2 separate regions of the Homo sapiens genome follow, and region 1 is linked to region 2. The links come from fine-mapping of genetic effects on gene expression. A gene starts in region 2. The other region holds a variant in brackets. All regions are shown on one strand. Distances are between the middles of the regions.

Evidence for each region. PIP is the estimated chance that this variant, and not a neighbour inherited with it, causes the effect. A credible set is the group of variants that fine-mapping cannot tell apart.
Region 1: its variant is the best candidate, but not a certain one, in a credible set for the expression of SNN in whole blood (INTERVAL, PIP 0.59).

The regions. Positions count from the first base shown.
Region 1 is chr16:11,689,398-11,692,299 of GRCh38, reverse strand. TXNDC11 (thioredoxin domain containing 11) reads left to right here. Exons shown (of 12, transcript NM_015914.7): 8 at 218-1,010. Among named protein-coding and RNA genes, the nearest start is that of SNN, 22 kb to the right of the region's middle. The variant C/A (reference allele first, on the strand shown) is at 1,690.
Region 2 is chr16:11,666,976-11,669,877 of GRCh38, reverse strand. It overlaps SNN (stannin), which reads right to left and starts at 1,423. Exons shown (of 2, transcript NM_003498.6): 1 at 1,338-1,423. RefSeq lists an enhancer at 124-223 and a silencer at 1,331-1,750.

The DNA of each region.
Region 1 (2,902 bases), 22 kb before region 2:
CTCGCAGTTTTTGTAATGGCAAAAATTTCATCACACTACTCAGAGCGACATGTAGTTTAAAACTTACGACTTGTTTATTTCTGGAATTTTCCATTTAGTATTTTTGAACCGGAGTTGACCATGGATAACTGAAATTACAGAAAGTGAAACGTGGCTAACGGGGTGCTAGTCCCTCAGTCATCCCCAAGCCCTTCACCAACTCTGCCCTGTATTTCAGATCACCGAAGTGGCCTTGGAGTACAACAACTGTCATGGGGACCAGGTGGTGGAGCGTCTCCTTCAGCACCTGCGGCGGGTGGATGCTCCAGTGCTGGAGTCCCTGGCCCTGGAAGTGCCGGCACAGCTGCCAGACCCGCCAACGATCACAGCGTCCCCCTGCTGCAACACTGTGGTGCTGCCCCAGTGGCACTCCTTCTCCAGGACCCACAACGTCTGTGAACTCTGTGTCAACCAGACCTCCGGGGGCATGAAGCCGAGCTCGGTCAGCGTGCCACAGTGCAGCTTTTTTGAAATGGCAGCAGCTCTGGATTCTTTCTACCTCAAGGAGCAGACCTTTTATCATGTGGCATCAGACAGCATAGAATGCAGCAATTTTTTAACTTCCTATAGCCCCTTCAGCTACTACACTGCATGTTGCAGGACCATAAGCAGGGGTGTGTCAGGCTTCATCGACTCTGAACAAGGTGTCTTTGAAGCCCCTACTGTTGCATTTTCTTCCCTTGAGAAGAAATGTGAGGTTGATGCCCCAAGCTCCGTTCCTCACATTGAGGAGAACAGGTATCTCTTTCCAGAAGTGGACATGACTAGCACAAACTTCACAGGCCTGAGCTGCAGAACCAACAAGACTCTCAACATCTACCTTTTGGATTCAAATTTGTTTTGGTTATATGCAGAGAGACTGGGTGCTCCGAGCTCCACTCAGGTGAAAGAATTTGCGGCAATTGTTGACGTGAAAGAAGAATCTCATTACATCTTGGATCCAAAGCAAGCACTGATGAAGCTCACCCTAGGTACTGCAGGCAGTTTATTTCCCCAAGCATTGTACATTTTGCTTGACTTCATATGGGTAAATTTTATTGATGGCTCTCATTACATTTAGTTGTGGGGTGATGTCACCTTCGTAGCTCATTTTAAGTCTTTAGACCACCATCAGTCATAATTTTCAAAGAAGCTAATTTTGTCTATTAAATGGAACAGAAACTTCCTCACTCTGAATTTTGGATAAGTTTGTCATTTAGCCCATGGTGGGGGTAAGAGTCCCACTTTCTAAATTGGCGATTTCTGTCACATGTCTAAGGTAGAACCAGCTGCAGGCAGTGGGGACTTGGGGACTAGAACAGGCAGGGAGGTGGAGAGCTATTCTGGTGGGATGTCCTAGGGGCTGATGAAAGTGAGCCTTGACAGCAGCTTTGTTCTAAAGGAGCTTAAAGAGAAAGCAGTGGCCGGGCGCAGTGGCTCACGCCTGTAATCCCAGCACTTTGGGAGGCCGAGGCGGGTGGATCACGAGGTCAGGAGATCGAGACTATCCTGGCTAATGTGGTGAAACCCCGTCTCTACTAAAAATACAAAAAAAAAAAAAATTAGCCGGGCGCGTTGGCGGGCGCCTGTAGTCCCAGCTACTCGGGAGGCTGAGGCAGGAGAATGTCGTGAACCTGGGAGGCAGAGCTTGCAGTGAGCAGAGATCGCGCC[C/A]CTGCACTCCAGCCTGGGCGACAGAGCAAGACTCCGTCTCCAAAAAAAGAGAGCAGTGAAGAAGGAAGTAGAGCCGCCTTGCCTCCCTTTTTGTCTCATAGGCTTAAATGTCTAAGGATCAAGGCCACCAGACCTAATTTGTTCTGCTGCTGTTTCATAATGTACTGAGTAATATTGCTGGGACCTGGGGTACCTACACTGTAACAAGTGTAAAGTGCAAATAAATAAGTGTCAGTCGCAAACCAGCAAAACCCACTTTTTGAGGAGTAAGGCTCCATGATGAGAAAGCACCCAGAGCTTGCCCCTGGGACTTGGCAGCAACATTGGGCTGACCCACCCTGGCCTGTTCCCAGGAATTTGCTGATGCCCTTGACTACACACAATGAAGTGAGAATTCAAAAGCCACGTTAGTTCAGCCTCATTGGAAACGGGAGGGAGGGTCAGTGTATGCCGAATGGAGAAAGGAGGAATTTGGTAGGGAAGGAAACCTTTCATTTCAAGTTTTAAAGTATGAACTCAACAGTAGACTCAGAGCTTCTACATATGAGTCTTTTTAGCCATCCTCTTTCAAATCTAGGTGAAGCTTGTTTCTTACATTAGACACATTTGTGAAAAGGCTTTATGTAAATATTGATTTTTCTATATCAAGTTACATATTATAAATCCAAGAGTTCCTCACTGTGTAAAAGAACCCTGTGACCAGTCACTTTTTGAAGGGCATAAATCTGTCGATATTATAGATTACTCCCAATTCATGTTATCTAAAGTCATTTTGATGTGTTGAGCTTTCTTAAAATGAAACAAGCATTTTTTTTTTAAATGGGAAAGAGACTCCAGAGAAATGGGGTCAGTGTTCCTACAAGCATGTATTTTTGAGGTAGTCTGTATTAGATTTTCCTGAATTCCATTCAGTAATGCTCAAGTGTTTAATGACCTCATAATGTGTTCACTTTGAATTTAAGGGTAATTGAAAGAAGCCTTCTTTAGATTTCTTTCCATCTTCTGTATCTTCTCTGAAATGTTTAGCCTAGCTGTTCTTTGTCCTGCAGTTAGTGACAGAATTCTTAGGGAGCTTGTAAAAAACACCTACTGTGTGTCATTGTTGGTTTAGAGACTTAACTCATAAATCAGCTGTCTCTAGGCTAGTTTCAGAATTTAGGCTTTATTCAGATTAGGAAATAATTCTTGGTTTCATGTTTCAAAAACATAGCCA
Region 2 (2,902 bases):
GAAACTCGCTCCAGAATCCCCTAGGTTCCCCAGTGGCAAAAGAGGAAGCGGGAGCCCGCAGAGCTCTGAACCGGGACTGCCCCAAGGTCAGTCGGGGTCTTCCTCGGGCCAGGCCAGAGGCTCATGCCCCCACCCTGTGAATCACCCGCTGGTCATTTTCACAGGCTGCCCCAGGGTTGGCCTGTTTGGCCAAACAACTTTGCTTGTAGATGCCGGAGAAAGTTGGTGGCAATTATATGTGCCAGACACTGAGATAAACAGCTCACGCAGATGTCTCCTTTCTGCCTCAAGACAACAGGGCAGTTGAGCTATTACTGTTCCCTCTTGGCAGATACAGAAATTGGTGGCTCAGAGAAGTTAAGTCCATTGCCCAAGGTCACACAGCTCAAAAGTAGACGCGCAGGGATTCAAACCCAGGCAACCTGCATCCAAAATCCCGCATTTCGACCCTGACTCTAAAATGCCACATTCTCCCTACCTCCTCTCCCGCGTGCCTGAGGGGCCGCGGACAGGTGAACCCCAGTGTGGCCCTCGCTGGGGCGGGCTGGGCGACCTGGGCTGGGTGCTGGGGACTTAGGGGTGACAGCGCCCCGGCGGCTCCCGAGTGCTGAGCGCGGGCGGCGTGGCAGGCGCGGTGCCAGGCGCGCTCCGCGCACCCTCCCGTTCCACCCTGCCCGGCGGCGCCGGCGTCTCCCCCACTCCACGGAGGAGCAAAGCGAGGCTCCAGGGAGGAGGGGGCTCGGCCCAGGGGGCGACAGCTGGAGAGGGGACGGCAGCTGGGGAGGTAGCTCGAATCGGCCCGACGGAGGCGGGGTGTGGGACGGGGACCAGGGGAGCTAGGCATGCCCACGCCGCGCAGCCGCTGCCCACGGAACCGGGCGCCGAACGCTGCGGCCCGGCCTCAGTTTCCCTACCCGCGAGACGGGCGCCGGACGTCACCTGGACCCCTATCCCCGGAGCCCTCCCCGGAGCTCCCAGAATTTTGAAGAACCCCGAAATGCCGGGGGAAGGCGGGAGCGTAGCTGAGGACGGGCGGGGGCTGCACGGGCGGGGGCGAGCGCCCCGCGATCCCCACAAAGCGGCCTCCGCCCCCCGCCGCCTCCTTTGTCCGGATCTCGCCGCAGCGCCGCTGACAAAGAACCCCAGCCCGCGGGCGCGGCCCCTGGAACGGACCCTCCCCCGAGCCGCGCCCGCCGGGCCGCCCCTCCCCCGCCCGCAGACCCCGGCCCGGCCCCGCCGCCGCGCGCGCCCCTCCTCGTCCTGGCCTCCCCCTTCCCGCCCCCGGGCCCCGGCGCCCCCGCCCGGCCCGAGCGCGCGGCCTGCCCCGCCCGGCTCACCATGGCGCGGCAGCGGCCCGGCCCGATCGCCCCGCAGCAGCCCCGCGGGCCCGGCTCCGCCCGCCCGGTCCGGCCGCCGCGCACTCGGGACGCAGGAGCCCCGCGCTGCGGCGGGCGGGGCCCGGCTCCTCCCCGGCTGGGGACGGGGCCTCCCAGAAAGGCCAATGGGAGCCCGCGCTGGGACGGCGGGGCGGGGCGGGCCGGGGCGGAGTCACGTGTGCTCGGGGCCGGCAGGCGGTGGGGCGGGGGCTGCGCGCGGCGGGCGGGCTCGGCCCTGGCGAGCGCGGATTGGGCGCCCGTGGGTACGGGGCCCCACTACAGGCGCCCTTCCTCTGCCAGCCTCATCCTGACCCCGGCAGGCTGCCTTGGTCCCGCCTGCTTACAGCGGAGGAAACTGAGGCACGCTGCACGGAAGAGTGCTGCATACTCCTCGAGAGCTGAGAGCGGCGGGGAATCCGGGGCAGGGGCAGGGGAGAGGCGCGACCGCTGAGGTGAATGACCTTGCTTCGGGAGGAAGCTGGGCATCAGTCGTTCGCGAATTCATTTATGTATCATTCATCCGCCCAGTCAGTCGATGGCGGAACACTGACCACGTGCCTGCCACGCCAGTCGTCGTGGGAGCAGCCACGAGCCAGACAAGGTCCCGGCCCTGACGAAGCTCTCATTCCTCTGCGGGATGAGGCTGTGAGGCATTTGCACCCCTCTGCCACCTATAATCATAGTTATTTTTAGCATAATTACCCGGTGGTTTGGCCCCCACCAAATGCCTGCCCTGTATAAACAGCCCAACACATTTTATTAAGATGACTCCGGAAGAAAGAATCTTCCCATTTTACAGATGAGGAACCTGAGGCTCCAAAGAGCTGAAGTCCCACAGCCTGCTCCTGATGGAGAGAGGGTTTTGAGGCCAGGCCTGTCTACCTGGGAAGACAGAGGCTCCAGTTATTGGAGTAATCTCCACTCATCCACCCCAAGAAGGCCATCGGCGAGAGGACACCCCAGCCCTGGGGCCCACAGAAGGGGTGAGGGTGGGTCCCTCAAGGCTTCTGTGGCCCAGGGGACTTGAGAAGACAGGAGGGGGCAGGGCGAGCTGGGACCTCCTCCTGGGAACGGGGGCCTTATTTGCTGGAAACTTCTTTCCCATTCTCAAGCAGAAGCCTCTGGAAGAGCATGGCGGGTTGGGCTCACGAGGCTGAGGTGGCCAGGCCCTCACTCCCTCCACTCAGCCTCGCTGGGCTTTCTTCCCTGCGCCCAGTGCACCAAGCCTTTCCCACCGCCAGGCCTTTGCCTATGTGGCTCCCTGCAGCTGGAACTCTTCTACTTCATCTTCCCGATCTCAGCTTAAGTGCCCCTTCCTCAGGAGGGCCCTCCCTGATCGCCCAGCCAAGAGTAGCTCCCTTGGGGTTTTTTGTTTTGTTTTTGAGACGGGGTCTTGGTCTGTCACTCAGGCTGGAGTACAGTGGTGCAATCACAGCTCACTACAGCCTCCATCCAACTCCTTCCTGGGCTCAAGCCATCGTCCCACTCAGCCTATATCTATGAATGTGGGCAGATTTGACGAAGCA